Linked DNA regions of Homo sapiens: regions 2, 3, 4, 5 and 6 are each linked to region 1. The links come from fine-mapping of genetic effects on gene expression. A gene starts in region 1. Each other region holds a variant in brackets. All regions are shown on one strand. Distances are between the middles of the regions. Region 1 holds the start of TCN1 (transcobalamin 1). Region 2 overlaps OOSP3 (oocyte secreted protein family member 3). Region 3 overlaps OOSP2 (oocyte secreted protein 2). Region 4 has its middle 4.6 kb from the start of MS4A3. Region 5 holds the start of OOSP1 (oocyte secreted protein 1). Region 6 overlaps OOSP3 (oocyte secreted protein family member 3).

Evidence for each region. PIP is the estimated chance that this variant, and not a neighbour inherited with it, causes the effect. A credible set is the group of variants that fine-mapping cannot tell apart.
Region 2: its variant is the best candidate, but not a certain one, in a credible set for the expression of TCN1 in whole blood (INTERVAL, PIP 0.67).
Region 3: its variant is the best candidate, but not a certain one, in a credible set for the expression of TCN1 in whole blood (INTERVAL, PIP 0.50).
Region 4: its variant is the best candidate, but not a certain one, in a credible set for the expression of TCN1 in whole blood (INTERVAL, PIP 0.86).
Region 5: its variant is the best candidate, but not a certain one, in a credible set for the expression of TCN1 in whole blood (TOPMed, PIP 0.67).
Region 6: its variant is the best candidate, but not a certain one, in a credible set for the expression of TCN1 in whole blood (INTERVAL, PIP 0.65).

The regions. Positions count from the first base shown.
Region 1 is chr11:59,864,089-59,869,165 of GRCh38, forward strand. It overlaps TCN1 (transcobalamin 1), which reads right to left and starts at 2,399. Exons shown (of 9, transcript NM_001062.4): 1 at 2,304-2,399. The coding sequence starts at 2,382.
Region 2 is chr11:59,885,425-59,890,501 of GRCh38, forward strand. All of the region lies in intron 2 of OOSP3 (oocyte secreted protein family member 3), which reads left to right. Among named protein-coding and RNA genes, the nearest start is that of OOSP3, 9.2 kb to the left of the region's middle. The variant A/G (reference allele first, on the strand shown) is at 2,122.
Region 3 is chr11:60,042,351-60,047,427 of GRCh38, forward strand. It overlaps OOSP2 (oocyte secreted protein 2), which reads left to right. Exons shown (of 4, transcript NM_173801.5): 2 at 1,119-1,297; 3 at 2,321-2,424; 4 at 4,594-5,077. The coding sequence ends at 4,723. Among named protein-coding and RNA genes, the nearest start is that of OOSP2, 4.5 kb to the left of the region's middle. The variant A/ATTTC (reference allele first, on the strand shown) is at 2,791.
Region 4 is chr11:60,049,549-60,054,625 of GRCh38, forward strand. No RefSeq gene overlaps it. Among named protein-coding and RNA genes, the nearest start is that of MS4A3, 4.6 kb to the right of the region's middle. The variant CAA/C (reference allele first, on the strand shown) is at 3,005.
Region 5 is chr11:59,934,080-59,939,156 of GRCh38, forward strand. It overlaps OOSP1 (oocyte secreted protein 1), which reads left to right and starts at 4,353. Exons shown (of 5, transcript NM_001395276.1): 1 at 4,353-4,451. The coding sequence starts at 4,376. The variant C/A (reference allele first, on the strand shown) is at 2,235.
Region 6 is chr11:59,895,567-59,900,643 of GRCh38, forward strand. OOSP3 (oocyte secreted protein family member 3) reads left to right here. Exons shown (of 5, transcript NM_001395255.1): 4 at 1-86; 5 at 567-917. The coding sequence ends at 647. It also overlaps the pseudogene SRD5A3P1. Among named protein-coding and RNA genes, the nearest start is that of OOSP3, 19 kb to the left of the region's middle. The variant C/A (reference allele first, on the strand shown) is at 2,269.

The DNA.
Region 1 (5,077 bases):
GTGGCAGAGAAGGAAGGAAATAAGAAACACATACTCAGAAAATAGTAAGACTTGCAGCAGGGGTTATATAAAAATATTTAGTAACAGATATGGCACAGACCTAGACCAATCCAGTGGCTGCAGACTGTGTTGGTGGAATAATACAAAGGTGGGTCTTGAACCCACCCCCATGCCAGACATTACTCCTTTAACAACCAACATGAAAATGTTTTAATATTTTAACAACTGGTGCAGACTTATCATTGTGTACTGGCAGACTCCTGCCTGGGAAATCTAGCATCATTCCCTAATTTTGTATATGAAGCTTAGATAGATTGTCCTTAAAGAAACTTCCATAATTGGAGGCTGAGCTGAAACTAGACTACATGTCTTCTGACTCTCAGTAAGCAGGACTTTCTACTTCCTGGATTCAGTTCTTTCCTTCTCCATCTTCTAAATCAACTGGGTTAATGTTGAGAAAATGCAGGTAATAATTCTGTGTTATACTGGTGATTGACCCCAAAACTTCATTGTCTGATTACCCAGCTGGCTGGGCATCGAGATCATTATTTAGCATTATGCAGCCTGTAAAAAACTCTCCAGTTTTAGCCTACAATATGCCCCAATTCCAGAGATGGAGGGAAGTCACATTATACTGTGGAAGTAGGAAAATCCATAGCTCCCAAGGAAATAGAGGAGAATAAAAAGATTTACTATTTATTTAAACACAGGACACTTTGTCAATGTATTTTTCCATAATCTTGAGGAGTAGCCCCAAATCCTACATATCTCCAGATTATCTAATGGATTAGTGGGAGAGTGAGAAGAACATGAGGTTTGGATTCAGATTTTGGCCACATTTTGTGCTCCTTAACTTATGACTGTGGATAATAACTTATGTAACTTGTTTTACTCTTAGTTTTCTCATTTAAAAATTGTGGCTGTTAACACTTACCTTACAGATATTGGACAAGAAACCACCGAATAAACTGTAAAATGCTGCACATACTATTATTTCCAGCTCAACTGGAGTTTTTATCACTATACTTGAGAATCAAGGAAATGTAATTTCTCTTGCCCAGTTTTCTTTACTTTAAAAGAATGAGTCAAGAAGATCTGAATAGAGTGATTGTAGAAAGGTCATGGTTTGTTGCAGACACAATGGAACAATTGTGAGTCAGTTCTCTGAGATTTTGTGGAACCATCCAGCTCAGCAGATTTTCTGGCCCTGAAACAGACTTTTTAGTTCCTGATCAACAACTCAAATCAGCTTCCTTGAGTCTCAAAGATAAATTTAATTATTATCATTATTATTTAAAATGAATTGAAAGCTAAAACCTACATAGCCATTCCCTATTCTTAGGATCCAACAGGGGAAATGTCAAGCCAAGAAGAAAAATCAGAGTCAGAAGAGTCTATGCTTTAGCCTGTATGTATACAAGCCTGTCTTCTGTGGTGTTCTCTTCTTACTGGTTAGAGAGCACAGATAGTACCACCTAGTAATCTTTGGACTGGTTTGAAGCTCAATTTCAGAGTAAAGTCTCACAAAAGAGAATTCATGCACTTGAGAACTGCACCAGACTTCATGAGATAATTTGCTTCAATAGTCTCCCCTCATTATCCTTTATTTATGAATGAAGCTAAAGAAATTCAGAAATGTTGGGTCATTCAATAACTAAGGGATCAAACTAAACCTGAATTTAGTTTTCCCTTCTCTTACTTTAAAGTTCTTTTACAGAACCACACAATCTCTGGGGTCAACACCCATGCAAGAGATGATGGAACTTTATCCCATGTGTCCTGGGAAAGAGTTGAAGGAAGGTGGACATGCAACTTGGAACATCTAAACTCACTCATGACAAGACAGCAGTCATCACTATTTGAAAGAGATTATTATTTTTTTCTATGTAGTTACAAGGGGTTAACCCAAAAATCATGCATTGAATTTCAGGGAAAAAAGATTGCATATCAAGACCAAAAGATAACTTTCCATGATCTAGAAAAGTTTCTGGGAGCATAAATTTTCTGTCATTGAAAAGTCACATGAATAGGGAGTTACTTGGTAGGGATGCTGTGCTAGAGAGGATCTGAGCATAGAAAGAGCAGTTAGGCAAGTGAATACACAATCTATAATTCCTCTTACAACAACATGCATTGTGAGACTTTCCTCACCATCTCCTGCCACCCTTTTCATCATTCATGGAGTCCAACCACATACGAAACTGGAATGGGATCTTTTCTCAGGTAACTCTACATAGAGTCTCTTGTCAACAGTTTTCAGTAGACTATCACTCTAGAGTAATTTTAGCTCAAAGTTTACTCACCACAAATCTCGCATAGTTGGCTTGGAATAAAAGAAAACAGTAAGAGCCCCACTAGGGGCAGCTGGTGTGACTGTCTCATCTCTCCAACAGTGTACCAGAATGTTGATGAATTGGCTGGCTATTTATTAAGTGATGGGCAGAAGGTAATGAGAGCTCCTCCTTCAGGTTGCCTCAGCCTCTTTTCACTCAAGCAAATATTGAGCAATGTCAGGAGGTGTGGTCAAGTGTATTTGTCCATGTGATGTAATAAATAAGGAAGAAGACTTGAAGGATGTGGTTAGGGAGAATAAGGCAATAACTTTCCTTTGTCTCCTGTCCTAAACCTTCGGGTTTCATATCTATTATTTGCCTTCCGTGCAGTGAAGATATATTAGGCAAATGACTGTTTCCTATAATCTTTCCTTTTTTTTCCGTTTCACTTTATGTTTTATGTTTCCTGATAAAGTAGATTTGATCATGCAAACACATACAACATATAAAAATGGAAGTAAAAGAAGACATCCAAATGGGAAGCAGGCATATGAAAAAGTGCTTGAAAAGGTGCTTAACATCATTGATCATCAGATAAATGGAAATCAAAGCTACAATGAGATATCCTCTCATCTCAGCTAAAAATGGCTTTATTCAAAACACAGGCAATAACAAATGCTGGCACGGATGTAGAGAAAAGGGAAGCCTTGTACACTGTTGGTGGGAATGTAAATTAGTACAATCACTATGGAGAACAGTTTGGAGCTTCCTCAAAAAACTAAACATAGAGCTACCATATGATCCAGCAATCCCACTGCTGGCTATATACCCAAAAGAAAGAAGACCAGTATATTGAAGAGATATCTGCACTCCCATGTTTGTTGCAGCACTGTTTACAATAACCAAGATTTGGAAGCAAGCTAAGTGTCTATCAACAGATAAATGAACACAGCAAATGTACATATACACAATGGAGTACTATTCAGCCATATAAAAGAATGAAATCCTGTCAGTTGTGACAAAATGGATGGAACTGGAGATAATTATGTTAAGTGAAATAAGCCAGGCACAGAAAGACATACATTGCATGTTCTCACTTATTTGTGGGATCTAAAAATCAAAACAATTGAATTCATAGAGATAGAGAATGAAAAGATGGTTACTGGGGGCTGGGAAGGCTAGTGGTGGGAAGGAGATGCGGAGGGTTAATGGGTACAAAATATTGGAAAGAATGAATAAGACCTACTATTGGTAGCATAACAGGGTGACTATAGTCAATAATAATTTAATTGTACATTTTAAATAACTAATAGTATAACTGGATTGTTTGTAACGTAAAGGATAAATGCTTGACAGGATGAATACCCCCTTCTCTATGATGTGATTATTACGCATTGCATGCCTGTATCAAAACATTTCATGAGCCCCATAAATATATACACCTACTATGTACCTACAAAAATTGAAATAAAAAAATTTAAAAACGGAAGTAAAAGTTGTAAGTCTGAAATTGAAGCAGGCAGTATTGGAGAACCCAGCACATGAGGGGATCTTTGGCATAGTGGTTTCCAAACTATGATTTTTCTCCTAAGATAGATTCCATGAGAGTTTCCTAACCAAGGAGGAAAACCAGAGAGCTATACATCAAATGTGAATTTCTGCCCTGCCAGGGCAGTTGCTACATGTGAGAAGTGTTGCCTATCACAGTTCTTCTGAGAACTATTAGAGAATACTGTCAGCCTAGCTAAGGATGTCATGACTTAATGAGCCACTATTTGCATTGTACCTCTGTGATGGTTAATTTTCTGTGTCAACTTGACTGGCACCTGAGTGCCCAGATTAAACACTATTTCTCGATGTATCTGTGAGGGTGTTTCCAGATAGGATTAGCATTTTAATTGGTGGACTCTGGAAAGTAGAATGCCGTCTCCAATGTAGGTGTGCATCAATCAATCTATTGAGACCCTGAATAGAATAAAATGGTGAAGGAAGGGGGAATTCACCCTTTTTTTGCTTCCTGCCAGCCTGTTTGAGCTAGGACATCTTATCTTCTCCAGCCCTCAAACTGAGATTTACACCATCGGCTCCCCTGGTTCTTGGGCTTTCAGTTTGGCCTGAATCACTCCACTGACTTTTACTGCATGCAGACAGTAGACTGTGGGACTTCTTAGCCTCCATAAGGGCATGAATCAACTCCTTGGAATAAATCTCTTTCTCTCTCTCACATATTTATATAAAACTTATGTGGAAACCACCATTCTACTCTCTGTTTCCATGTATTTGATAATTTTTAGAATCTACATATAAATGAGATCATAGTATTTGTCTGTGACTTATTTCATTTAGCATGATATTCTTCAGGTTCATCCATGCTGTCTCAAAGGGCACTATTTCCTTCTTTTTTATGGCTGAATACTATTCTATTATATAAATATAAATATATATATACACACACACACATATATGTGTGTGTGTATATAAATCACAATTTTTATCCCTTCATCCATCAACAGATATGTAGGTTGTTTCTATGTCTTTGATATTGTGAATAATGCTGCAATGAACATGGGAGTACATATTTTATATAATATATATTTTTGTTTGTTTGTTTGTTTGTTTGTTTGTTTTTGAGACAGAGTTTCTCTCTTGTCGCCCAAGCTGGAGTGCAATGGTGCAATCTCAGCTCACTGGAAACTCCACCTCCCGGGTCCAAGTGATTTTCCTGCCTCAGCCTCCAGAGTAGCTGGGATTACAGGTATCTGCCACCACACCGGCTAACTTTTCTATTTTTTTTTAGTAGAGAC
Region 2 (5,077 bases), 21 kb after region 1:
ATCCCATCACCTAGGTATGAAGCCCAGCATGCATTAGCTATTCTCCCTCCCCATCCCCCTGACAGTCCCCAGTGTGTGTTGTTGTCCCCCATGTGTCCATGTGTTCTCATCATTCAGCTCCCACTTATAAGTGAAAACATGCAGTATTTGATTTTCTGTTCCTGCAGTAGTTTGTGGAGGATAATGGCTTCCAACTCCATCCATGTCCCAGCAGAGTACATGATCTTCTTCCTTTTTATGGCTGCATACTATTCCATGGTGCATATGTACCACATCTTCTTTATCCAATCTATCATTGATGGGCATTTGGGTTGGAAGTTTTTTTACGTACATTCATAAGGTACATTGATCTATAGTTTCTTTTTGTGATGTCTTTGGTTTTAATATCAGGGCAATACATCATAGAATGAGTTGAATAATGTGCCATCTTCTATTTCTTTTTTTAAAAAATATTTATTTTAATTTTTTAAAATTTTATTTTATGTTCTGGGGTACATGTGCTGGATGTGCAGATTTGTTACATAGGTAAATGTGTGCCATGGTGGTTTGCTGCAACTATCAATCCATCACCTAGGTATCCAGCCCAGCATGCATTAACTATTTTTCCTAATGCTCTACTCCCCCACCCTCCCCTGACAAGCCCCTATGTGTGTTATTCCCCTCTCTGTGTCCATGTGTTTTCATTATTCAGCTCCCACCTTTAAGTGAGAACATGCAGTGTTTGGTTTTCTGTTCCTGTGTTAGCTTGCTGAGGATAATGGCTTCCAGCTTCACCTAAGTCCCTGCAAAGGACATGATCTGATTCCTTTTTATGGCTGCATAGTATTCCATGGTATGTATGTACCACATTTTCTTTATCCAATCTATCATTGATGGGCATTTGGGTTGATTCCATGTCTTTGCTATTGTGAATAGTGCTGCAATGAACATACACGTGCGTGAATCCTTGTAATAGAATTTATATTCTTTTGGGTATATACCCAGTAAAGGGATTGTTTGATCAAATGCATGTATCCTTGTAACAGAATGATTTACATTCTTTTGAGTATATACCCAGTAATGGGGTTGTTTGGTCAAGTGGTATTTCCAGTTGTAAATCTTTGAGGAATCACCACACTGTCTTCCACAATGGTGGAACTAATTTACATTCCCACCAACAGTGTAAAAGAGTTCCTATTTCTCTGCAACCTCTCCAGTATCTGTTGTTTCTTGACTTTTTAATAATCACCATTCTGACTGGTGTGAGAACGTATCTCATTGTGGTTTTAATTTTCATTTCTCTAATGATCAGTGATGTTGAGCTTTTATGTTTTTTGGCCACATGTATGTCTTATTTTGAGAAGTATCTGTTCATGTCATTTGCCCACTTTTTTTTTTTTTTTTTGATACGGAGTCTTGCTCTGTCACCCAGGCTGGGGTGCAGTGGTGTGATCTTGGCTCACTGCAACCTCCGCCTCCCAGATTCAAGCGATTCTGCTGCCTCAGCCTCCCGAATAGCTGGGAGTATAGGCGTGTGCCACCATGCCCGGCTAATTTTTTTTTGTATTTTTAGTAGAGACTGGGTTTCACAATGTTGGCCAGGCTGGTCTTGAACTCCTGCCCTCAAGTGATTCGTGTGCCTTGGCCTCCCAAAGTGCTGGGATTACAGGCATGAGCCACCACACCCCTTTGCCCACTTTTTAATGGTTTTTTTTTTGTTGTTTTTTTTTTTGTAAACTTGCTTAAGTTCCTTGTAGATTCTGGATATTAGACCTTTGTCAGATGGATAGATTGCAAAAATTTTCTCCCATTCTGTAGGTTGTCTGTTTGCTCTGATGATAGTTTCTTTTGCAGTGCAGAAGCTCTTTAGTTTAATTAGATCCCATTTGTCAATTTTTGCTTTTGTTGCAATTGCTTTTGTTGCTTATGATGCAATTTTTTGGCAATGTCATCATAAAATCTTTGCACATGTGTATGACCTGAATGGTATTGCCTAGATTTTCTTCTAGGGTTTCTATAGTTTTGGGTTTTACACTTAAGTCTTTAATCCATCTTGAGTTAGTTTTTGTGTAAGGTGTAAGGAAGGGATCCAGTTTCAATTTTCTGCATATGACTAGCCAGTTCTCCCAGCACCATTTATTA[A/G]ATAGGAAATCCTTTCCCCATTGCTTGTTTTTGTCAGGTTTGTCAAAGATCAGATGGTTGTAGATGTGCAGTTTTATTTCTGAGTTCTGTATTTTGTTTTATTGGTTTATATGTCTGTTTTTGCACCAGTACCATGCTGTTTTGATTACTGTAGCCTTGCAGTATAGTTTGAGGTTTTGTAGCATGATGCCTCCAGCTTTGTTCTTTTTGTTTAGGATTGTCCTGGCTGTACAAGCTCTTTTTCGGTTCCATATGATTTTTAAAATAGTTTTTTTTTCTAATTCTGTCAAGAATGTCAATGGTAGTTTAATGGGAATGGCACTGAATCTAGAAATTGCTTTGGGCAGTTTGGGCATTTTTACGATATTGATTCTTCCTATCCAATAGCATGGAATGTTTTTTTCATCTGTTTGTGTCCTCTCTGGTTTCCTTGAGCAGTGATTTGTAGTTCTCCTTGAAGAAGTCCTTCACTTCCCTTGTTAGCTGTATTCCTAGGCATTTTATTCTCTTTGTGGCAATTGTGAATGGGAGTTCATTTATAATTTGGCTCTCTGCTTGTCTGTTGTTGGTGTATAGGAATGCTTGTGATTTTTGCACATTGATTTTGTATCCTGAGGTTTTCCTGAAGTTGTTTATCAGCTTAAGAAGCTTTTGGCTGAGTCCATGGGGTTTTCTAGATATAGGATCACATCATCTGCAAACAAAGACAATTTGACTTTCTCTCTTCTTATATGAATACCATTTCTTTCTTTCTTTTGCCTGATTGCTCTGGCCAGAACTTCCAGCTATGTTGAATAAGAGTACTGAGAGAGGGCATCTTTGTCCTGTGCCATTTTTCAAGGGGAATGTTTACAGGTTTTGCCCTTTCGTTCTGATATTGGCTGTGGGTTTGTCATAAATGGCTCTTATGGTTTTGAGGTATGTTCTTTCAAACCTAGTTTATTGAGAGTTTTTAACATGAAGGGATGTTGAATTTTCTCAAAGCCTTTTCTGTATCTATTGAGATTATCCTGTGGTTTTTGTCTTTAGTTCTGTTTATGTGACAAATTATGTTTATTGATTTGCATATGTTGAACCAGCCTTGCATCCTGGGGATGAAGCCAACTTGATTGTGGTGTATAAGCTTTTTGATGTGTTGCTAGATTCAGTTTGCCAGTATTTTATTGAGGATTTTTGCATTGATATTCATCAGGGATATTGGCCTGAAGTTTTCTTTTTTTGTTGTATCTCTGTCAGGGTTTGGTATCAGAATGATGCTGGCCTCATAACATGAGTTAGAGAGAAGTTCCTTATTTTCAATGGTTGGGAATAGTTTCAGAAGGAATGGTACCAGCTCCTCTTTGTATCTCTGGTAGAATTCAGCTGTAAATCCAACGGGTCCTGGGCTTCTTTGTTTGTTTGGTTGGTAGGCTATTTGTTACTGCCTCAATTTCAGAACTTGTTATTGGTCTATTCAGGGATTCAACTTCCTGGTTCAGTCTTGGGAGAGTGTACGTGTCCTGGAGTTTATCCATTTTTTTCTAGATTTTCTAGTTTGAGGTGTTTATAGTATTCTCTGATGGTTGGTTGTATTTCTGTAGGGTCAGTGGTGGTATCCCCCTTATCATTTCTGAATGTGTTTATATGAATCTTCTCTATTTTCTTCTTTATTAGTCTAGCTAGTGGTCTACCTATTTTGTTGATTTTTTTTTTTTCCAAAAAAGCAGCTCCTAGATTCATTGATTTTTTTGAAGGGTTTTTCATGTCTCTATTTCCTTCAGTTCTTCTCTGAGCTTGGCTATTTCTTGTCTTCTGCTAGCTCTGGGGTTTCTCTTGTTTCTCTAGTTCTTTTTAGTTTTGATGTTAGGGTGTTAATTTGAAATCTTTTCAGCTTTTTGATGTTAGCATTTTAGTGCTATAAATTTCCCTCTTAACACTGCATTAGCTGCATCCCAGGGATTTTGATACATTGTCTTCTTGTTCTCATTAGTTTCAAAGAACTTGATTTCTGCCTTAATTTCATTATTTACCCAGAAGTCATTCAGGAGCAGGTTGTTCAATTTCCATGTAATTGTGTGGTTTTGAGTGGGTTTCTTAATCTTGAGTTCTAATTTGATTATGCTGTGGTCTGAGAGACTGTTATATTTCAGTTCTTTTGCATTTGCTGAGGAGTGTTTTACTTTCAATTATGTGATGAATTTTAGAGTAAGTTATGTGGCACTGAGAAGAATGTATGTTCTGTTGTTTTGGGGTGTAGAGTTCTGTAGATATCTATCAGGTCCACTTGATCCAGAGCTGAGTTCAAGTCCTGAATATCTTTGTTAATTTTATGTCTCAATCTAATATTGACAGTGGGGTATTAAAGTCTCCCACTATTGTGTGGGGGTCTAAGTCTCTTTGTAGGTCTTTAAGAACTTATTTTATGAATCTGGGTGCTCCTGTGTTGGGTTCATATATATTTAGGATAGTTAGCTTTTCTTGTTGAATTGAACCCTTTACCATGTAATGACCTTCTTTGTCTTTTTTGACCTTTGTTGGTTTAAATTCTATTTTGTCAGAAACTAGGATTGCAACTCCTGCTTTTTTCTGCTTTCCATTTGCTTGGTAAATTTTCCTCCATCCCTTTATTTTTATCCTATTTGTGTCTTTGCATATGAGATGTGTCTCTTGAATACAGCACACCAATGAATCTTGTCTTTTTATCCAGCTTGCCATTCTGTGTCTTTTAATTGGGGCATTTAGCACATTTACATTTAAGGTTGATATTGCTATGTGTGAATTTGGTCCTGTCATCATGATGCTGGCTGGTTAATTTGCAGACTTGTTAATGTAGTTGCTTCATAGTGTCATTGGTCTGTGTACTTTAGTGTGTTTTTGTAGTGGCTGATAATGGTTTTTCCTTTCCATGTTTAATGCTTCCTTCAGGAACTCTTGCAAGGAAGGCCTTCTGGTGATGAGATCCTTTAGCATTTGCTTG
Region 3 (5,077 bases), 180 kb after region 1:
AAGGTTATGATCACTAATGCAGGACATTTGCCTCTACACCTTTTCTGAAATGTGCATTGTCTTACCTTGTTGATGATTTCTCTCTAAAGGCGGAACTTCCAAGCTCCAGTGGTGGTGGAGTCCTCTGTGGCCACTTGCTCATTAATAATTTAAATATGTACCTTTTAATGCTGAAAAGACTCAGTTCCTCCAAATGAATCTATTGCAAATAATGATTATTATTGACTTACTGACGATTTAAATATAGAGGATAAAGATGGGTTTTACAACAAAACGTGCATGGAGCTAACATCCCAAATAAAGGGCTTTCTCTCTCTTTTTCCTTTTATGGCTGAGATTGTTTCTGGTTCTGGCTGCTCTAGACAAGAATTCTACTGTTCTAGAACCACCCTTTCTCCTCTTTCTCTTTCCAAAAGTATACTGGGATGATATCGCTTTTATTCTAACACATTGCAATTCACTTCTGCCCCTTATGTTTTGTCCTAAATATATCCCCCTCCATGGAATATTTAGGAAATATTAAGGGGCTATACGGTTATGGTTTTTCATTTTCTTTCTTATTTTTTTTTTCTTTTTTGGAGTCTCTCTCTGTCACCCAGGCTGGAGTGCAGTGGCGCGATCTTGGTTCACTGCAAGCCCCGCCTCCTGGGTTCTCGCCGTTCTCCTGCCTCAGCCTCCCGAGTAGCTGGGACTACAGGCGCTTGCCACCACACCCGGCTAATTTTTTGTATTTTTAGTAGAGACGGGGTTTCACTGTGTTAGCCAGGACGGTCTCGATCTCCTGACCTTGTAATGCGCCCGCCTCGGCCTCCCAAAAGGCTGGGATTACAGGCGTCAGCCACTGCGCCCGGCCCATTTATGCTTTTTCTTATTCTTGCATGTTGATCCTCCCACCTCCTCCATGAAATTGCTGAAATCTAGTTACATGGGGGCATAATTAGTTAGGTATTTTGGAAAATAATTTTAATAATGTTTGTAAGAAAACCTTTAAGCCATGGTTACCCTTGCCAGAGAAATAAATGCCTTTTATTTATCACAGAGGGCAGAGTTGACTATTCTTTGAACACTTTCTTAAGATAGACACCCTTCTGATGCTTTTCATATGGTTCTTTCCACAGTGAAAATAAGTTGCTCTCTGGACTGGTTGATGGTCTCAGTTATCCCAGTTGCAGAAAGCAGAAATCTGTATATATTTGCGGATGAATTACATCTGGGAATGGGCTGCCCTGCAAATCGGATACATACATATGTATATGAGTTTATATATCTTGTTCGTGATTGTGGCATCAGGACAAGGGTAAGAACAGTGATTGTTTGTAAAAAATACTGCATGTTTTGTCAGACTTTTATGCCTAGTATTAAAATTGTCTTTTAAAAAAATAATGTTTGCTTCTCATTGTAGTAATTTATGGGCAGGGGACAACGGAATTTATCATTATTTTTCACTGAATATTGGGTCATTCTGTGTGCACAGGACCTTAGATCACAGATTTATAAATTGGCTAGGGAACTGATTCTAAGTTGCCCTTAGGCTACTATTATATTTTACTAAATATTAGCAGACTGCTTTAAATTTTGTGTGATTCTTCTAATGTGGAAGGTCACCAATCTTGGGAAGCTCCATCATGTTCAATGTTAGGTCATTTGAAATCTATCCATGTTCCATGAGGATTTGTGTAAATATATAGTGGATTTTCATTGAAATGAAATCTCTTGTCATTCAGCTAGGCACAAATCCTAAATTGCGTTGTTATCCTGGGATATTATCTTCTCACAGATTCCCAAATTTAAGCAATTTATATTCACACTACACAAATATTTTGGGCCAGTGACCAATGATAATAACAATCATTTTTGAATAAAGTATTTTATTTTAGAAATTGGGAACTTGGAGCTTCAGAAGGTGCTTTACCAGCTTTTCCAGGGATGCACTGCTTGTTGGTGGTAGTTTAGATACCAAACCAGGATGAATACTCTCCGAAGCTTGTGCTTTAAACCACTCTCCGTTATTTGACTTACAAATCACCTTTCTCAAAGGAACTGTTGGAAACCTTTTCATTAATGAATCATAAAGATGGCTGTAAGCGGCAGTTTAAATTTGCTGCAATGAATTAAGATTGTTTTGCCCCCAGGCATTTTAAATTCACTCTTAGGGATAACACTCCTCTTCTGTCCCAGTGAGTTGTCATATCTTTATTTATATTTAAGAATGACAGTAGCCATTTTTGAGATCATGAATGTTTTTTACATCCTATTCAAGTGTGTGTATTCCTCATCTGTTACTCCAAATATCTTCCACTGAAACTTCATGCTCTCCTAGGTAGTTTCTGAGGAAACTCTCCTTTTTCAAACCGAGCTGTACTTTACCCCAAGGAATATAGATCATGACCCTCAGGAAATCCATTTGGAGTGTTCCACCTCTAGGTAAGTCCAGCAGATTTGATTCCTTTGGAATGTTTTAGCTTTACCTTTGCTTATGAGAAGCTTCTGCAGAAGCATAGACTTTAGAGAATATAACATGATTCACCCATAAGTATAATTGTAAACAAACCCCAAATTAGTATTTACACAAATATTTTAATGAGTACTTTAAAATGTTTTAATATTTTGAATGTAATGTTTATTTTAGAATAAAAACATATAGATTTATAATGGTCCTAACAATCTAGTGTAACTATGTTATTTTATAATAACTCAACTACAAAGCAGAGTCATTAAATACTCTGTCACCTTTAGTAAGTGATAGGATTAAGCACTGATATTATCTTTCAATGTTTTGTCTTTTATAAT[A/ATTTC]TTCTGATACATTTTATTGCTCAATTTCATCTTATAAGAGTAAGTGGCTAAAAACATAAGAAAATCAGTCCTTCATTTAATACTAACTCATGGAGAATACATGAAGGGAGGGCTTATCAGCCTAATTATTAAATGTACTTTGCTTGCAATTTTGTGGAACTGAGATATTGAATCCCAAGAGCCTCGTGTGAACTTTGAGACTAAGTGGAAAGGTATCCTGATACACTTTTTTTTTTTTTGCCATGCCATTGAAATATTTATGTTAAGTCTTATAAATCTGAGTGAAGAACCTTGGAAACTATCTCAAAACCACAGGAAAATTTTTATCCTTGCTTAATATGTGAAAATAGTTGACATCAAAATAAGAATTTAGAGCTCAGCCAATGTGCAATGTCTTAATGTGATTATAGTACTTTTTCTCAAGGAGAGGCAGAATTTTTTTTTAATTTTGGTAAAATATACATAATCTTGTACATTTGTACAAGTTGTAAATTTGTTAAAATGTATATAATCTTTTTTAATTTTGGGAAAATGTACAAATCTTTTAATTTTGGTAAAATGTACATAATCTAAGATACCATTTTAAGTGTACAGTTCAGTGGCATTAAGTCCATTCACATTGTTAATACTTTTACTCTTCCCTTTAACTTATTTTCATAAAGTATTTTCATAATACTTTTACTCTTCCCTTTAACTTATTTTCATAAAGGCTGAGGGATTTAGTGATATTCAGGAACATAGCTGAACTCTAAATAGAAACCACCCCTTGATTCTCTGTCTCTATCTCTGTCTCTGTCCTTGTCTGTCCCTGTCTTTCTGGTCTGTCCCTGTTTCTCTGGCCTGTCTCTCTGGTCTGTCCCTCTGTCTCTCACTCTGCCTTTGCCTCTGTCTCTGTCTGTCTGTCTGTCTCTCTGTCTTTGTCTGTCTCTCTCTGTCTGTCTCTCTCTCTCTGTCTCTGTCCCTGTCTCTCTGGTCTGTCCCTGTCTCTCTGGCCTGTCTCTCTGTCTCTCTGGTCTCTCTGTCTCTCGCTCTGCCTCTCTCTCGGTTTCTCTGTCTCTCTCTCTCTCTCTGTCTCTCTCTCTTTCTCCCTGTCTCTCTCCATCTCCATCTCTTTGTCTCTGTCTACCTTTCACACACATACATATGTTTTCAATTCTATGAACTACCCAAAGCTTGGAGCAACACAGAGTTCTGATCTAATGCCTCAGAACTACTGCCTTTCCGTAGGCTGCCAGAGTAATCATGATAAATAGATATTCCTATTTTGATAGTAACTACTATGTTGCTTGAAGCCTACTTTCCTTAAAAAAAAAATGAAGACTTGGCCAACAAAGTTGTCTGTTTAGGTTTTGGGTGCATGAATTTTAATGTTGTAGTCTCTCTCTCTCATATTCACTTACTCACATTGACATATAGAACTTTGCTGCCACTACAGTGGGACAGATTAAGCTTTTGGTGGCTTTTTCTTACTGTTCTTAGGATCCATTTGGCTGAGTCTGTTTTGCTGGGTACATTGGTACTCTTCTAATGCAAGCATCACAAATTATCTAAGACCATTCGTCTTTCTACTCAGTGTTTGATGCAGAAATCATGGGGAGACTATCTGGAATTAGTTCTTCTGTAAGCCTATCTGCTCAAATCCTGTACCAAGAGTCCACGAGGATCTAGAAGGCATAGTATGCTGGCTCTATGCCATACTCCTGAATGACTATTCTGTATATGATCATGATATTAAACAGTGGTAAAACTGACTTGATCCCAAGTGCTCCAACACTATCTGCTTTCTGTTTCCCTTTTCTTTAGGAAATCAGTGTGGCTTACACCAGTTTCTACTGAGAATGAAATAAAATTGGATCCTAGTCCTTTTATTGCTGACTTTCAGACAACAGCAGAAGAGTTAGGATTATTATCTTCTAGTCCAAACTTGCTCTGAGCTAAAGGAGAAATGGAAACTTGAAGCTGGTGTTATGTATTTTGCAGGAAAACAGTTTCATTTTTTCATAGCAAAAATATAGTTGGTGTATATCTCTCCTTAAGTCTCTGGTTTCTAAAAACCCTACTTCAGTAAAGGTCCTGATTAGTTGATTAGTGAATGTGTATTTCTAAATATTTGTATTCAGTAGGGGTATGGCTGATTAATTTAACATTAACTATTAGGTAATTCATATTATACATTTAAGTTCTTTCTGTTCTGTGTAGAAGATTCAGAAATATGTCTTCAAAGACAATGACTTGATCTAATTGATAAGAACCTCCAATAAATATGTTCTAATATTTTTCAGGAAGA
Region 4 (5,077 bases), 190 kb after region 1:
TTGTTTGTTTTTTTCTTGTAAATTTGTTTGAGTTCATTGTAGATTCTGGATATTAGCCCTTTGTCAGATGAGTAGGTTGTGAAAATTTTCTCCCATTTTGTAGGTTGCCTGTTCACTCTGACGGTAGTTTCTTTTGCTGTGCAGAAGCTCTTTAGTTTAATGAGATCCCATTTGTCAATTTTGGCTTTTGTTGCCATTGCTTTTGGTGTTTTAGTCATGAAGTCCTTGCCCATGCCTATGTCCTGAATGGTAATGCCTAGGTTTTCTTCTAGGGTTTTTATGGTTTTAGGTCTAACGTTTAAGTCTTTAATCCATCTTGAATTAATTTTTGTATAAGGTGTAAGGAAGGGATCCAGTTTCAGCTTTCTACATATGGCTAGCCACTTTCCCCAGCACCATTTATTAAATAGGGAATCCTTTCCCCATTGCTTGTTTTTCTCAGGTTTGTCAAAGATCAGATAGTTGTAGATATGCAGCGTTATTTCTGAGGGCTCTGTTCTGTTCCATTGATCTATATCTCTGTTTTGGTACCAGTACCATGCTGTTTTGGTTACTGTAGCCTTGTAGTATAGTTTGAAGTCAGGTAGCATGATGCCTCCAGCTTTGTTCTTTTGGCTTAGGATTGACTTGGTGATGCAAACTCTTTTTTGGTGCCATATGAACTTTAAAGTAGTTTTTTCCAATTCTGTGAAGAAAGTCATTGATAACTTGATGGGGATGGCATTGAATCTATAAATTACCTTGGGCAGTATGGCCATTTTCACGATATTGATTCTTCCTACCCATGAGCATGGAATGTTCTTCCATTTGTTTGTATCCTCTTTTATTTCATTGAGCAGTGGTTTGTAGTTCTCCTTGAAGAGGTCCTTCACGTCCCTTGTAAGTTGGATTCCTAGGTATTTTATTCTCTTTGAAGCAATTGTGAATGGGAGTTCACTCATGATTTGGCTCTCTGTTTGTCTGTTATTGGTGTATAAGAATGCTTGTGATTTTTGTACATTGATTTTGTATCCTGAGACTTTGCTGAAGTTGCTTATCAGCTTAAGGAGATTTTGGGCTGAGTCAACAGGGTTTTCTAGATATACAATCATGTCATCTGCAAACAGGGACAATTTGACTTCCTCTTTTCCTAATTGAATACCCTTTATGTCCTTCTCCTGCCTGATTGCCCTGGCCAGAACTTCCAACACTATGTTGAATAGGAGTGGTGAGAGAGGGCATCCCTGTCTTGTGCCAGTTTTCAAAGGGAATGCTTCCAATTTTTGCCCATTCAGTAAGATATTGGCTGTGGGTATGTCATAGATAGCTCTTATTATTTTGAGATACGTCCCATCAATACCTAATTTATTGAGAGATTTTAGCATGAAGGTTGTTGAATTTTGTCAAAGGCCTTTTCTGCATCTGTTGAGATAATCATGTGGTTTTTGTCTTTGGTTATATCAAATTTACAAGAAAAAAAAAACCCGTCAAAAAGTGGGCGAAGGACATGAACAGACACTTCTTAAAAGAAGACATTTATGCAGCCAAAAAACACATGAAAAAATGCTCACCATCACTGGCCATCAGAGAAATGCAAATCAAAACCACAATGAGATACCATCTCACACCAGTTAGAATGGCAATCATTAAAAAGTCAGGAAACAACAGGTGCTGGAGAGGATGTGGAGAAATAGGAACACTTTTACACTGTTGGTGGGACTGTAAACTAGTTCAACCATTGTGGAAGTCAGTGTGGCGATTCCTCAGGGATCTAGAACTAGAAATACCATTTGACCCAGCCATCCCATTACTGGGTATATACCCAAAGGACTATAAATCATGCTGCTATAAAGACACATGCATACGTATGTTTATTGTGGCACTATTCACAATAGCAAAGACTTGGAACCAACCCAAATGTCCAACAATGATAGACTGGATTAAGAAAATGTGGCACATATACACCATGGAATACTATGCAGCCATAAAAAATGATGAGTTCATGTCCTTTGTAGGGACATGGATGAAATTGGAAATCATCATTCTCAGTAAACTATTGCAAGAACAAAAAACCAAACACCGCATATTCTCACTCATAGGTGGGAATGGAACAATGAGAACACATGGACACAGGAAGGGGAACTTCACACTCTGGGGACTGTTGTGGGGTGGGGGGAGGGGGGAGGGATAGCATTAGGAGATATACCTAATGCTAAATGACGAGTTAATGGGTGCAGCACACCAGCATGGCACATGTATACATATGTAACTAATCTGCACATTGTGCACATGTACCCTAAAACTTAAAGTATAATAATAATAAAATAAAAATAAAGTCTCTCTTGCCATAAAAAAAAAAAAGAATGTGTTCATGTAGAACTCAATGGTTACCTTTCGTGAGGAGAATGCAAATCAAGGCAAAAGAAGATTAAAGAGCTGTAATATTTCACATGAAGCCCATCTTGCACTATAGAAAATGTACTTATCAGGATGAAATCCCATTAAAATGGCTGTCAAAAATGAAATCTGTTTAACTCCAAACTAAGATACAATTTTACACCCTAAAATAAAGTACATAGGCCACCCTAGTAGAAGAGGTGATCTTTCTTAGAGAAATGCATTTGTTTTTTCCTATCTTATTTCCAACTATCTCGTTATAAAGGTCTTTTAGACATACCCAGTAGTTCTACAATCTGGCTTCACATTAGCGTTACCTTGGGACCTTTAAAAAATGTTTGTGTTGGGCTGAGTGCAGTGGCTCATGCCTGTAATCCTAGCACCTTGGGAGTTTGAGGCGCGTGGATTACTTGAGGCCAGGAGTTCAAGACCAGCCTGGTCAACATGGTGAAACCCTGTCTCTACTAAAAAAAATAGAAAAATTAACTGGGCATGGTGGTGTGCCCCTGTAATCCCACCTACTCAGGAGGCTGAGGCACAAGAATCGCCTGAACCTGGGAGGCAGAGGCTGCAGTGAGCCGAGATTGTGCCATGGCACTCCAGCCTGGGCAACAGAGTAAGACTGTCT[CAA/C]AAAAAAAAAAAAAAAAAAGTTCACCTTCATGTTGGGTTCATGACAAATATCCTGATTTAATGTCTTATAAACTTCCCAGAAGATTCCACTAGGTAGTTGAAAGTAGAACTGTTGTATTAGCATTTTCTATCTAGGCTATTTCCATGTTTACCAATAAATGACATGATAAATTCTTCCAGTTTTCTTAGGACCTCTAAAACAACAGTGCCTTCATTCAAATGCTAAGATTGGATTTCTAGTCCATTTTCCTCGTTTATTTGAAAACACAGCATGAGGTCAAAACAAGAATGAATCAAAGGTAGTTTCTGATTGTTGGTTTTATTTGATGGCTCATTATTTCAAGACCTCTTGGAACAACAATCCTTGTCCGTCTTAATCTTTTATTAATCTTACAATTATAGTAACTAATGCCATTTCAACGTGATTTCAACTTGTGACTTTTGCAACATTATAAACTGGTAAATTATGAATTAAACACGTTTAATGCACCCCAAAGTCAAAAACCTTAGGTGGTTAAGTGTTTTAAGAGCTTATACATGTGTTAAGATATATAAAGGTACTGCTTCATGAAGAATGTGATTTTAATATGTACACACATGGGCATGAGTGTGTATGGGGGGGTAAAACAGACAGTGCAAGCAATAATATTTAGTAAGTAGATAAGACCAGCAAGTCTTGAGAAATATATTGCTTTTTAGTCAAATGGGGCACTTGTAAATGAATAGCTAGACTATAGGTGAATTCACTCGAAGATTTCCTTTTCCTTTTGGAAATTTGCTACTTGAGTTTTGAACTTGATTATTCTTTAAGGTATTTCAGCACTGAAAGCTAGTCAGTCTCTCCTTGATCATGTCTCCTTGCCATTGGGAAATATTGCATGCAAGTGGAAAAAAGGTCTATGAATCTTCTATTTTTCCCTTTTTAATTTGTTTAAAAAATTTTTTAATTTATTTATTTTTATTTATCAGCCATAAAAAAGAATAAGATCCAGTCATTTGCAACAACATGAATGGAACTGGAGATCATTCTGTCAAGTGCAATAAGCCAGGCACAGAAAAACAAACATCACATGTTCTCACTTGTGGGATCTAAAAACCAAAACAATTGAACTCATGAAGACAGAAAGTAGAAGGATGGTTACCAGAGGCTGGGAAGGGTAGTGGGGGCCTGGGAGGGGAGGTGGGGATGGTTAATGGGTACAAAAAAATAGAATAAATAAGACCCACTATTTGATAGCAAAACAGGGTGACTGTAGTCAATAACTGTACATTTTTAAGATAAAGAGTGTAATTGGATTGTTTGCAATGCAATGGATAACTGCTTAAGGGGATGGATACCCCATTCTTCATGATGTGAGTATTATGCATTTCATGCCTGTATCAAAATGTCTCATGTACCTCATAAGTATATACACTAGGTACTTACAAAAATGGAAAAAATAGGGGGCCGGGCGTGGTGGCTCATGCCTGTAATCCCAGCACTTTGGGAGGCCGAGGCAGGTGGATCACGAGGTCAAGAGATCGAGACAATCCTGCCCAACGTGGTGAAACCCCATCTCTACTGAAAATACAAAAATTAGCTGGGCGTTGTGGTGTGTGCCTGTAGTCCCAGCTACTCGGGAGTCTGAGGCAGGAGAATTGCTTGAACCCGGAGGCGGAGCTTGCAGTGAGCTGAGATCGCGCCACTGCACTCCAGCCTGGTGACAGAGTGAGACTCTGTCTCAAATAAATACATAAAAAATAAAAATAATTTTTATGTATTTATTTTACTGTTCCCCCCTCAGCTTTAATGAGGTACAGTCAGATACATATGTTCTGCAGATCTAATGAACAGCATGATAACTGAAGTTAATACTGTACTATGTACTTGAAGTTTAAGAGAGGAGATCTTAAATGTTCTCACCACCACCACCAAAAAAAAAAAAAGATGATTATGTGATCTGATGTGATCAGTAGATTATCTGCTTTGTGTTAGTGACTTCACAATGCACACATGTGTCAAAACATGTTGTACATGGTAAGTATATTAAATTTTTATTTGTGAATCTTCCTTTGAAAGCAGTTTCTCACA
Region 5 (5,077 bases), 70 kb after region 1:
ACATTGATACAGTCAAGACACAGAACATTTCCATCACCACAGTGATCCATAATATGACCTTTTAAGAGCTACATCTACTTCCCTCCTGTCCCCATCCCCTCGTAAACCCTGGTAACCACTAATTTACTCTCTGTTTCCACTTTTTCATTTCAAGGATGTTATATAAATGGAATAGTATAGCATATTACCTTTTGGGATTGGCTGTTTTCACTCAGCATAATTCCATGGAGATTCATGCAGAATGTTCCAATGAAGCAATAATTTGTTCTTTTTCTTGCTAAATAGTATCCCATGGTATAGATTACTATGGTTCGTTTAGCCATTCATTTAAAAAAAGGGCATCTAGATTGTTTCCAGTATTTTGCGACTATGAATACAACTGCTAGGAATATTGGTGTACAGGCTTTTGTGTGAAAATAAATTTTCATTTATTTGAGACATGCCCCTGACATATCATTTGCTTAATAGATATCTTTGAATAATCGAATTGATAAATTGTGAGAAGAGAATAGAAAACAAAGTGTACCACATTTAGTTATTTTCATTAATATTCTAAAATACCTGTTTGTGAGAATTTACTGTTCCATTAAAGAGGTCATTAATAGGTCACATTTCTCTATAAAAACACTAATCTTATCAGCACAGTTTGTATTCTCTGTGCTGAAGATCCCCCAGAGGCACTGCAGTGAACACACAGGGATACCAGGGGATATTTTAAAAATTTCGGGGAGACAGTGAGTGATACTTGACAACTGTCAGACATGATGCAAATTACCAGCTCAAGGTAGTCCACAGTTCCACTTTGGTGGCACTACATTCTTTTCTATTAGTCCACAACTTTGTGCAACTTGGGATCTAGTGGTTGCTGTGATGAATAGCCAAAGCAGTTACTGTGGGAAAAATCCATGTGGAATAAGGAATGAAGATGGTGATGCCCAATCTGATTTCAAGAGCTGAGATGCTGTGCAGCGTCAAACAGTTATACACATATTATTCATAATTGTGGTTAAAGAATAAAATAAAAATATTTTCTTCCAATGTATGTGTTTTCAAATGGCTACTAAGTTGTCAGCACAAAAATACTGAAGTTATTTTGATGTAACAACATAATAAATGAAGCTGTTATGTATTTCTTTTCATGAAAGGATGCCATAAAAAGCAAACAAACAACAAAAGTTACTGTATCATTAAGAGAACTAGGTGAATGTTTGGGACCCTCTGCTATAACTAGTCACATATCCTAAAAATTTTCTAAGGGAAATAATTCTTTTTGTAAAAAAAAGAAAATTTGGCAAGATAGAAGTGTAATTCTCTAAACCCAAGGCAAGAAAAGAGAATGCAGATGCGTATAGGAGAATTACTCAGTATCTTCAGCCTCTGAAAGGGAAGGCTGGTTGAGCCCCGGTCCAGAGATTTATTGAGAGTGAGACTGAAGTATCCTGTTTCTCTTAGTCAGGGAGACACTTCTGTAGGCCAGACCATTGGACACCTTAGCTAGTGAGAGGATTCTTTCTTATTTTTTTCTGTCTGAATACATGTGTAAATGGGGACATAACTGCCATATTTTAGTGTTGCTAGCCATTTAGCTGAGAGTTAATTTGAATTAGTTAGGTGTCTGGGGATCCCACTGGATAGAGACAAACAAATGACACAGTTAATAGTGAATTACCAGCCCTGTACTGGTCATACTCCAGTCGAAGTAAAATGCTCAATGTGTATTTAGCCTGCTTCTATTAATTATTATATTAAATAGGTGTAAGCGAGTCTGTTGTAATTATGACTCAGATTCCAGAAGGAATAAGTAAAATGTGACCAAATAGAATCTGAAGCAAAAATTAAACAAACTTTGAGGCAAAAATACCACAAGCAAAATCAAAAGACAAATGACTGCCTAGGAGGAAAATATTTGCATCTTATATCGCGGATAAAAGGATAATCTCCCTAATATATAAAGAGCTCTAAAACAACGGAAAAGCTATAGAAATGTTCTTAAGATTATAACATTTTTAACTTCATTTATTCTTGCCAAAAAGGTTCGAGTCTAATTGTGAGGAAATAATCAGATTCTGAATGAGAGTCTTTACTCAAGATAGCTAGCCAAGACTCTTCTGAAAAGACATTTCCATACAAAACAAAAGTCATGAGGTACAACTCAATAAGATGAGAAATAACTCAATAAAAATGAATAAAATATTTGAATAGATACTTCCTTAAAAGGATATACACATGGCAGT[C/A]TGGGCTTGGTGGCTCAAGCCTATAATCTTAGCACTTTGGGAGGCTGAGGCAGGCAGATCACCTGAGGTCAGGAGTTTGAGACCATTCTGGCCAACATGGCAAAACCCTGTCTCTATGAAGAGACCCTGTCACCTCTTCAATGCTTCCATCCTCACCTTGAAAGTATTGCTCTTCCAGTGATTTAACCAGGTAATTTTTAAGATTCAAGCCACCTATTCTTTACTAGTTTATTGACGATTTGATAACAATAGTAGTTTCGCAGATTGTCAGATACACGAGGCTAAGACTGGGTGGCTGAAAGTCAGAGACATTGCCTTGTGCATCCTTAGGTACCTGTGGACAAGGTTTTGACATTCATTTGGACTGAACCTTAGCACTGTCCATCTAGATAGCAATGTATCTGAAATGTTTTAATATACCTTTAATCTCAATACACATTAAATTAAAAAAGCATAATTATTAAAATTAAAATATATTTGTGTCTTTAACACAAGTGAAATGTAAACATTTCAAAAACTTAAAAAGAGGCCATGCTCAGTGGCTCACACCAGTAATCCCAGCATTTTGGGAGGGCGAGGCAGGCAGACCACTTGAGGTCAGGAGTTCGAGACCAGCCTGGCCAACTTGGCGAAACCACATCTCTACTAAAAACACAGAAATTAGCTGGCCATAGTGGCGGGCGCCTGTAATCCTAGCTGCTTGGGAGTCTAAGCAGGAGAATCGCTAGAACCCAGGAGGCAGAGAGTGCGGGGAGCGGAGATCGTGCCATTGCATTCTAGCCTGGGTGACAAGAGCTAAACTCCATCTCAAAAAAACAAAAACAAAACAAAAACAAACAAAAATTTTTAAAAGGAACAAATGCTAACTAATTCTATTTTTTTTCTTTCTCCTGCCATCTTTTATTGGGCACCCATTTTGTGAAAGTTAGGACACACAAAAATACAGAGGAATGATCTCAACCTTTGAAGAGCTCATCATTTAATGGCATTTTAGAACTTTTAGAACAGACTAAATTTAATGATAAAATTCAGATAATATCAAGGATAGTTAAATGCATTTATATAGTCTTTTCTATTTGTTTTTGGTAAGCTCCTACTTTCCACGTTCTATTAACGTAGGACACAGTTGCTAAACTCTAATAACTGGTTATTAGCGAAAAAAATCAGAATATATTTGAACCAAACATTCATTTAGGCTTGTTTTGGTAATGAGATTTTGAATTTCTCATTTTTAAGTTGGCATCTTCTGTTTTGAAGAAAGGAATCTAAATGTGAGTAACCATTTACAGGCATTGCTACTCACAACGTAGTCTCCAGAGCAACATCCCTGCAATCTTAAAATGCAGAATCTTAGCCTTCACCCCAGACATTCCGAATTAGAATCTGCATTGTAAAGAGAGCCTCAAGTGATGTATATGCTCCTTAAAGTTTGAGAAGCAAACATCGCTGCTAATGGGCATCAACACAGCATGCACTCTGAAGGCAAAACCCTGTAGACCAGGGATTCTCAAAGTGTGGTCCCTGGGTGGTCAGTATGAGCATCGCCTGGGAACTTGTGAGAAACATCAATTCTCAGGTCCCAGCCCAGTCTTAGTGAATCAGAAAACTAAATGACACTCAGCTGTGCTTCAATAAGCTCTCCCGGTGATTCTGATATCTATTAAGTTTGAGTACCACTGTTTAGTTGGTGAAAACAGGTGAAAGTAGATGAAATCTTTCAATTCCCATGTTCTCAGGGCTTGGCCTTCTGAGATGCACAGAACAAGTAAATTATCATCCAGTTATTTCTTTCGTGTTCAGATGTGGAGACAGATGTTATAGGATATTAGGAAGTTTTAATAAAGTAAACCTTAGTGCATAAAAATAACTATATCTGATGCTTTGGACTCTAAAACAAGTGAAGCCTTCTGTTGTACTTCTATTGCACATTTTGCTTTATCTTTGCTCTTGTTTTTTGACATTTGAGTAAAAAGTGTAACATCTTAGAAAATGAAACAAAATTATATTTATGGCACGTGTGTGCTGTCCAAAGTTGTAATTAATTACCCACACCTATGTGTGGCTTCAGGCATTTTGGCATATAAGGCTATTCTCCCCAACTTCCTGTTTCCTGAGTGAGGTTTGGTTTTCAATCTGGGCAAATGAAGACCATTCTGGGGTTCAAAGGGCTCTTTTATCTGCATTCCTTGATATGGACCTGCGCTGGGGACTGGTCAGGTATAACTTATCACTTGGGGAATAGAAGTTTCTTAAAGAGAGCTGAAAGATGTGGCTTTGGATTCTTTACAGTTGTGGTCTGGTTGAATCTTAATAATAGCCAAGGACACATGGAGGGGTGGTGCCTCTTTTCGATGTGCAATCTTGAGATACCATGTTTTTCTCTTGCATACCGGCACTGAGACTAGGGAATGTGCCCTAACCTGAGACTGTCTTTCTCCAACTCCCCTTTCCTTTTGATCTTATTCTGACCATATCAATTCTTGGGGATCAAGTACTTGAAGTGGGTTTAATATAAAGAGTGTGGAGTGGCCTGGAAAACAGAGGAGTGGGTGGTGGTAGGAACTTGGGACTCTGTGGTGTGTCACATACAGGAAGAAAGCCTTATAAGGCTTAGCCTTTCTTTACCTTATACTTCATAGATCCTTTTCATTTCAGAGGGAGCAGTCAGTGCCCCCTAAGTGAGGTGAGCAGTGGTCCAGGTTTTCCCAGTACTTTTCCTGCGTCGGCCCCAAAAACCTCCTGTTCGGAGCAAACCAGAATGATTGGTAGCCCTGAGTATAAACTTGGGCTGTCAGTTTCTCTTCCTCTATTTCTGCTTCTCTTTCTCTTTTCCTTTCTTTCTC
Region 6 (5,077 bases), 31 kb after region 1:
CCGCTACCAATTCTTATTCTCCCTGGAACTTAACCAACGCTAGCTTATTTGGATTGACTCGGATTCCATATTTTCAAAACTCCTCGGTGAGGATCCTTAGAAGAGACAAAACATGGCAGTGTCCATGTAGAAATGATCGTATTGACATAAGGAAGTAAAAGCTCAAATCTCTACTAAGGAGGGTATTTGTTGTTTAAATAGTGTTTAACTACATGATGGGTCTCACATTACATTTCAATCCTGTTTAGAAAAAATGCTACTTCCATGTGTCTACATATATCCTGGTCTTGTCAATAAGTCTCCCTTTACCCTAGTTATGACAAATAAAAGAAAATCTCTAGTATAGTTTAAACATAATCTGAGTTGATAAACCACTTACTTTAAATAGTGCTCAGACACTTGAATAAAAATTTTCAACTCTTTCAACCCTTCCCTCTAATCCCTGGCACATAGTAGGTTCTCCGTGTTCACTAGTCAATATATTAGTCAATGTGTTTACTGTGCCAAGTTTATCAAGGGGTTACATTGGAAACTTTTTATTAACTACCTTTCTTTTTTCTCTGTAGGTAGAGGCATCTCATCAGTCACTTCTACTTAATATGTCTCATCCATTAGTCCATGAGAGTGCAAATGTAGCTATATTCTAGGTTCTTCCATGGCAATCCTGAAAACTCTGTTGCTACAGCTTACTTAAAATTTAATTTTTGAACCACTCACTACAGATTTATCACTTTTTGGTGCCACTTCCTGAGAGGACATTGGGTTGGGATAGAGCCCAGTGCTTCATATGTTTTTAAAAAGTGCTCCTTTTAAACATAGGCCATTATACCCTTGCATAGTCTCTTATAATACAATGTCTATGTATAATTTGTATGTGGAGTTGATCTTACAAATAAAATGTGCTGTCCCTTTGGCTATACTTCTTGATGACTGGGTTATAATCTCAAAACAGAACCTAGGCTGGGATGTAGGCATGGAAGGGTCTCTGTCCTCCACCTGCTGTTAGTGTACAAGTCATGTTTTAAATACAGTAGACTGAGAATAATCCTACATAGTTGTTTAATTCCTTTAAGAAAGATTTAGTATCCATGATAGAAATGAGCACCATTGGATCAACCAGGAAATAGAGTAGAAAGTTTGACCTCCTCTAGGCCCATGGCCTTGGGAAACAGCGATAGCAGAATATTTCCGTATCTTTCTTCAAGATCAATAGGGTGAGACTAGTTTTTATTCTTGGCACTCTAGGAACTAAACCTTTAGTGATCCCTTAGGACCATCCTTCTTTATTTCAATGACCACTCTCCAGTTAGTAAGAACATCATTCTGAAACATGCTCATGAGGATCTTGAGATGTTTCTAACAAAACCTCAAGTCCTGCCTGTGTGATTCTATTCTTCATATTGGGAAACCTTAGGCAATAGGGTTTATTGACTAGATACTTGTTATTTCAAATAACTGGGTGAAGGTAGACATCTTTTAATCTCCATCAGTGTTTCCTGCTGGCAGAACCTAAAGGTGAGGCTTGAAAATCTAATTTTTGAACTCTTGGCTCCAACATTGTAGGGCAGAGAGAGGCACATGTGGTAGTGAGACAACAGGTAAGCAACACACATAGGCTTGCTGCACCAACAGCGCTACTGCTTTCTATTTTAGTAAGGGGACCAGTAAGGATTTGTGTGTTAATTAGGACTAAAGTTGGTTACAGTTCACTTATTCATTCTCCCTTTCTTCCTCCCTGCCTCTCTCTCTTTCATATCTAGTATTCATTTGAAATGAACGAATCCCTGTTACTTTTGTTGAAAACATTACTAGACATTTTCATCATCCTTTAAATATAAACAGTATATTCAGACTCCTCGTGTCCTTCTTCAAAAAACCCCGGTAATTTAAGAATGAAAACAAACTGGAAAACTCAGAAAATGGCGATAAAAGTGGGTAGTTTCCATTTCAGCAATGAAGACATGCAAGAATTTTTGTATTAATTAGGACCAAGAATGGATAGAGTTTGTGTATTTAATCTCTCTCTTTCATAGATAGCATTCATTTGGAATGAACTTATTACTTTCATTCATAAAATATTTCTGTTTTTCCATTGTCCCTTAAAGTCAAAAGCCCACCAAGTCCAGAATAGGAGCCAGCGGTGGTAAAGGCAGACAGAGAGTGATAACCCTAATCACTGTCCCAGAGCTGTGATGCTTCATTCTTGAAAGGAGGATTGCCAGGCGTGATGGCTCACGCTTGTAATCCCAGCACTTTGGGAGGCCAAGG[C/A]GGGCAGATCACCTGAGATCGGGAATTAGAGACCAGTCCGATCAACATGGAGAGACCCCGCCTCTACTAAAAATACAAAATTAGCCGGGAGTGGCGGTGCATGCCTGTAATCTCAGCTACTTGGGAGTCTGAGGCAGGAGAATCGCTTGAACCCGGGAGGCGGAGGTTGCGGTGAGCCGACATAGCGCCATTGCACTCCAGCCTGGGCAACAAGAGTGAAACTCCTTCTAAAAAAAAAAAAAGATTTAAAGTTCTAAGATGGCTAAGATGGGCGCACGACGCGCCAGTGGCCACTACTCCGCGGGCTGACGGTGGCGGCGCTGGCAGCGCGGAACGCGGGCGCCTAAGCCATGGCTTCCTCAGGGAGAGCTGAGCTCTGGGCGCTGAACCCGCTGCGCTTGCTGTGGCTCACGCCGGCCGCCGCCTTCCTGCTGACCCTGCTGTTGCAGCTTCTGCCGCTCGGCCTGCTCCTGGGCCGCGCATTCTTCCAGGACCTGATCCGCTTTGGGAAAACAAGTGTTGGGGGGCCTCCGCGCCCCGCCGCCTGTCGCACCTTTGATGTCCCCAAGAGATATTTTTTCCTACTTCTCCCACTTCTATATCATCTCAGTGCTGTGGAATGGCTTCCTGCTTTGGTGCCTTACTCCATCTCTGTTCCTGGCAGCATCTTTTCCAAGCTGGCTTTATGGTTTGCTCAGAATTCTCAGGGCAGCACAGTTCCAGGGAGGGAAGCTGGCGCTGTCTGCGTTCTTAGTGCTGGTATTTCCGTGGCTGCGCAGCTTACGAAGAGTGCTTCTAAGTCAGTGTCTTCTCCAATGGCACGACTCACATCGTGCAATACTGTTTTGGACTTGCCTACTATGTCCTTGTCGGCCTATCTGTGCTGAGCCAAGTGCCAATGGATAGCAGGAATGCCTATGTAACAGGGAAAAAGCTACTGATGCAAGTGCGGTGGTTCCATATTCTCGGGATGATGATATTCATCTGGCCATCTGCCCATCAGTATAAGTGCCATGTCATTCTCGGCAATCTCAGGGTAAATAAAGCAGGAGTGGTCATTCACTGTAACCACAGAATCCCATTTGGAGACTGGTTTGAATGTTTTCTTCCCCTGACTACTTAGCAGATCTGATGATCTACATTTCCATGGCTGTCACCTTTGGGTTCCACAACTTGGTGAATAGTGGTGACATATGTCTTCTTCAATCCGGCCCTGCCTGCCTTTCTCAGCCACAAATTCTACAAAAGTAAATTTGTCTCCTACCCGAAGCATAGGAAAGCTTTCCTATCATTTTTGTTTTAAGTCAACCTCAGTCATGAAGAATGCAAACTAGGTGATGGTTTCCATGCCTAAGGACAGTGAAGTCTGGAGTCCAAAGTACAGTTTCTGCAGAACTGCTTGAAACTCTCTGTTCCATTTCTATGCCCCACAAGTTTTCACTGAATGAGCATGGCAGTGCCACTCAAGAAAATGAATCTCCAGTGTCTTCAAAGAAGAAATACTAATGGCAGATCTGCGATTTCTGTGTCCACTTTCTGAGATACTCTATAAAAACCAACCGGTAAAAAGTAGATGAGACTTCTCCAAGCTGCTTCACAAGCAAACTAACCAAAAATATATAAACAGTGTCACACATGCACACACACACACATACACAAAGGAAGAGATAAGTGCAAGGCTCTTGTATTGGTTCGAAACCCGAGAACGTGCCAACAAACACCACAAGGCGGTGTGGAGCAACAGGCTGTTTTAATGAGCACCTGGGTGCAGACGGGCTGAGGCGTAAAATGGTGTCAGCCCTAAGTGAAGACGGGGCAGGGGTTTTATAGTTTCCTATAAACAGGAAGTGTCCCAGTCTGACGTAACTGCTACGTGGTACCCGGATGGCCTCTCTCTCGATCTGCAGGGGGCACATGTCTTCTGGCCAGCTCACTTCCTGCTTCTTCTATCTTGCTGAGGCACAGTGCTGGTGCAAGTGGCCTTGCGCCTTGGGACTGGGCCTGAGGAGGGAGGAGTTACTCATCCCCCTAAGCTTTCAGGCCCTGGGGAGAATCTTTCAATAAAATCATCAATGGCTGTAACAGCCTGGTAGGAATGGACTATATAATAATACAGCAGGTGCTCAATAAATATTTGTTGCATTTCAGTAAAAGCAGAATAAACTTTGAAAATAATAAAAGGCTGAGTGCAGTGACTCACACCTGTAATCCCAGCATTTCGGGAGGCCGAGGTGGGCAGATCGCTGGGGCCCAGGAGTTGGAGACCAGCCTGGGCAAGATGGCGAAACCCTGTCTCCATCAAAAAATATAAAAATTTGCCAAGAGTGGTGGCAGGCACCTGTAGTCCCAGCTCCTTGCAGGTGGGCTGAGGTGGAAGGATCGCTTGAGCCTGGGAGGTTAAGCGTGCAGTGAGTCAAGATCACACCACTGCACTCCAGCCTGGGCAACAGGGCAAGACCCTGTCTCAAAATAATAATAATATATAGTTTTACACCAAAAGTTTCGGGGAAAAATGAGTTTGCTGGAGTTAATTTATACTTTCATGCATTACCACAAAGATCTCCAGTTACATAACTATCAATAGCCATTTCCACTCATCTCCCCCTCGAATCATAGCCTAATGGAACGTTTTGAAAGCTTCTTTATTTAATATTTCTTTTATGTCCTTTGAAGGGAGCACTTCAAAAGTGAAAGCATCAGAACATAAAATATATTTATGCATAGCAAGCCTTCTTGAATGGAAATGACACACTCTGGATTGAATAATACAGTAGCCTCATTCATATGTAGTTATTTAAATTGGATTAAT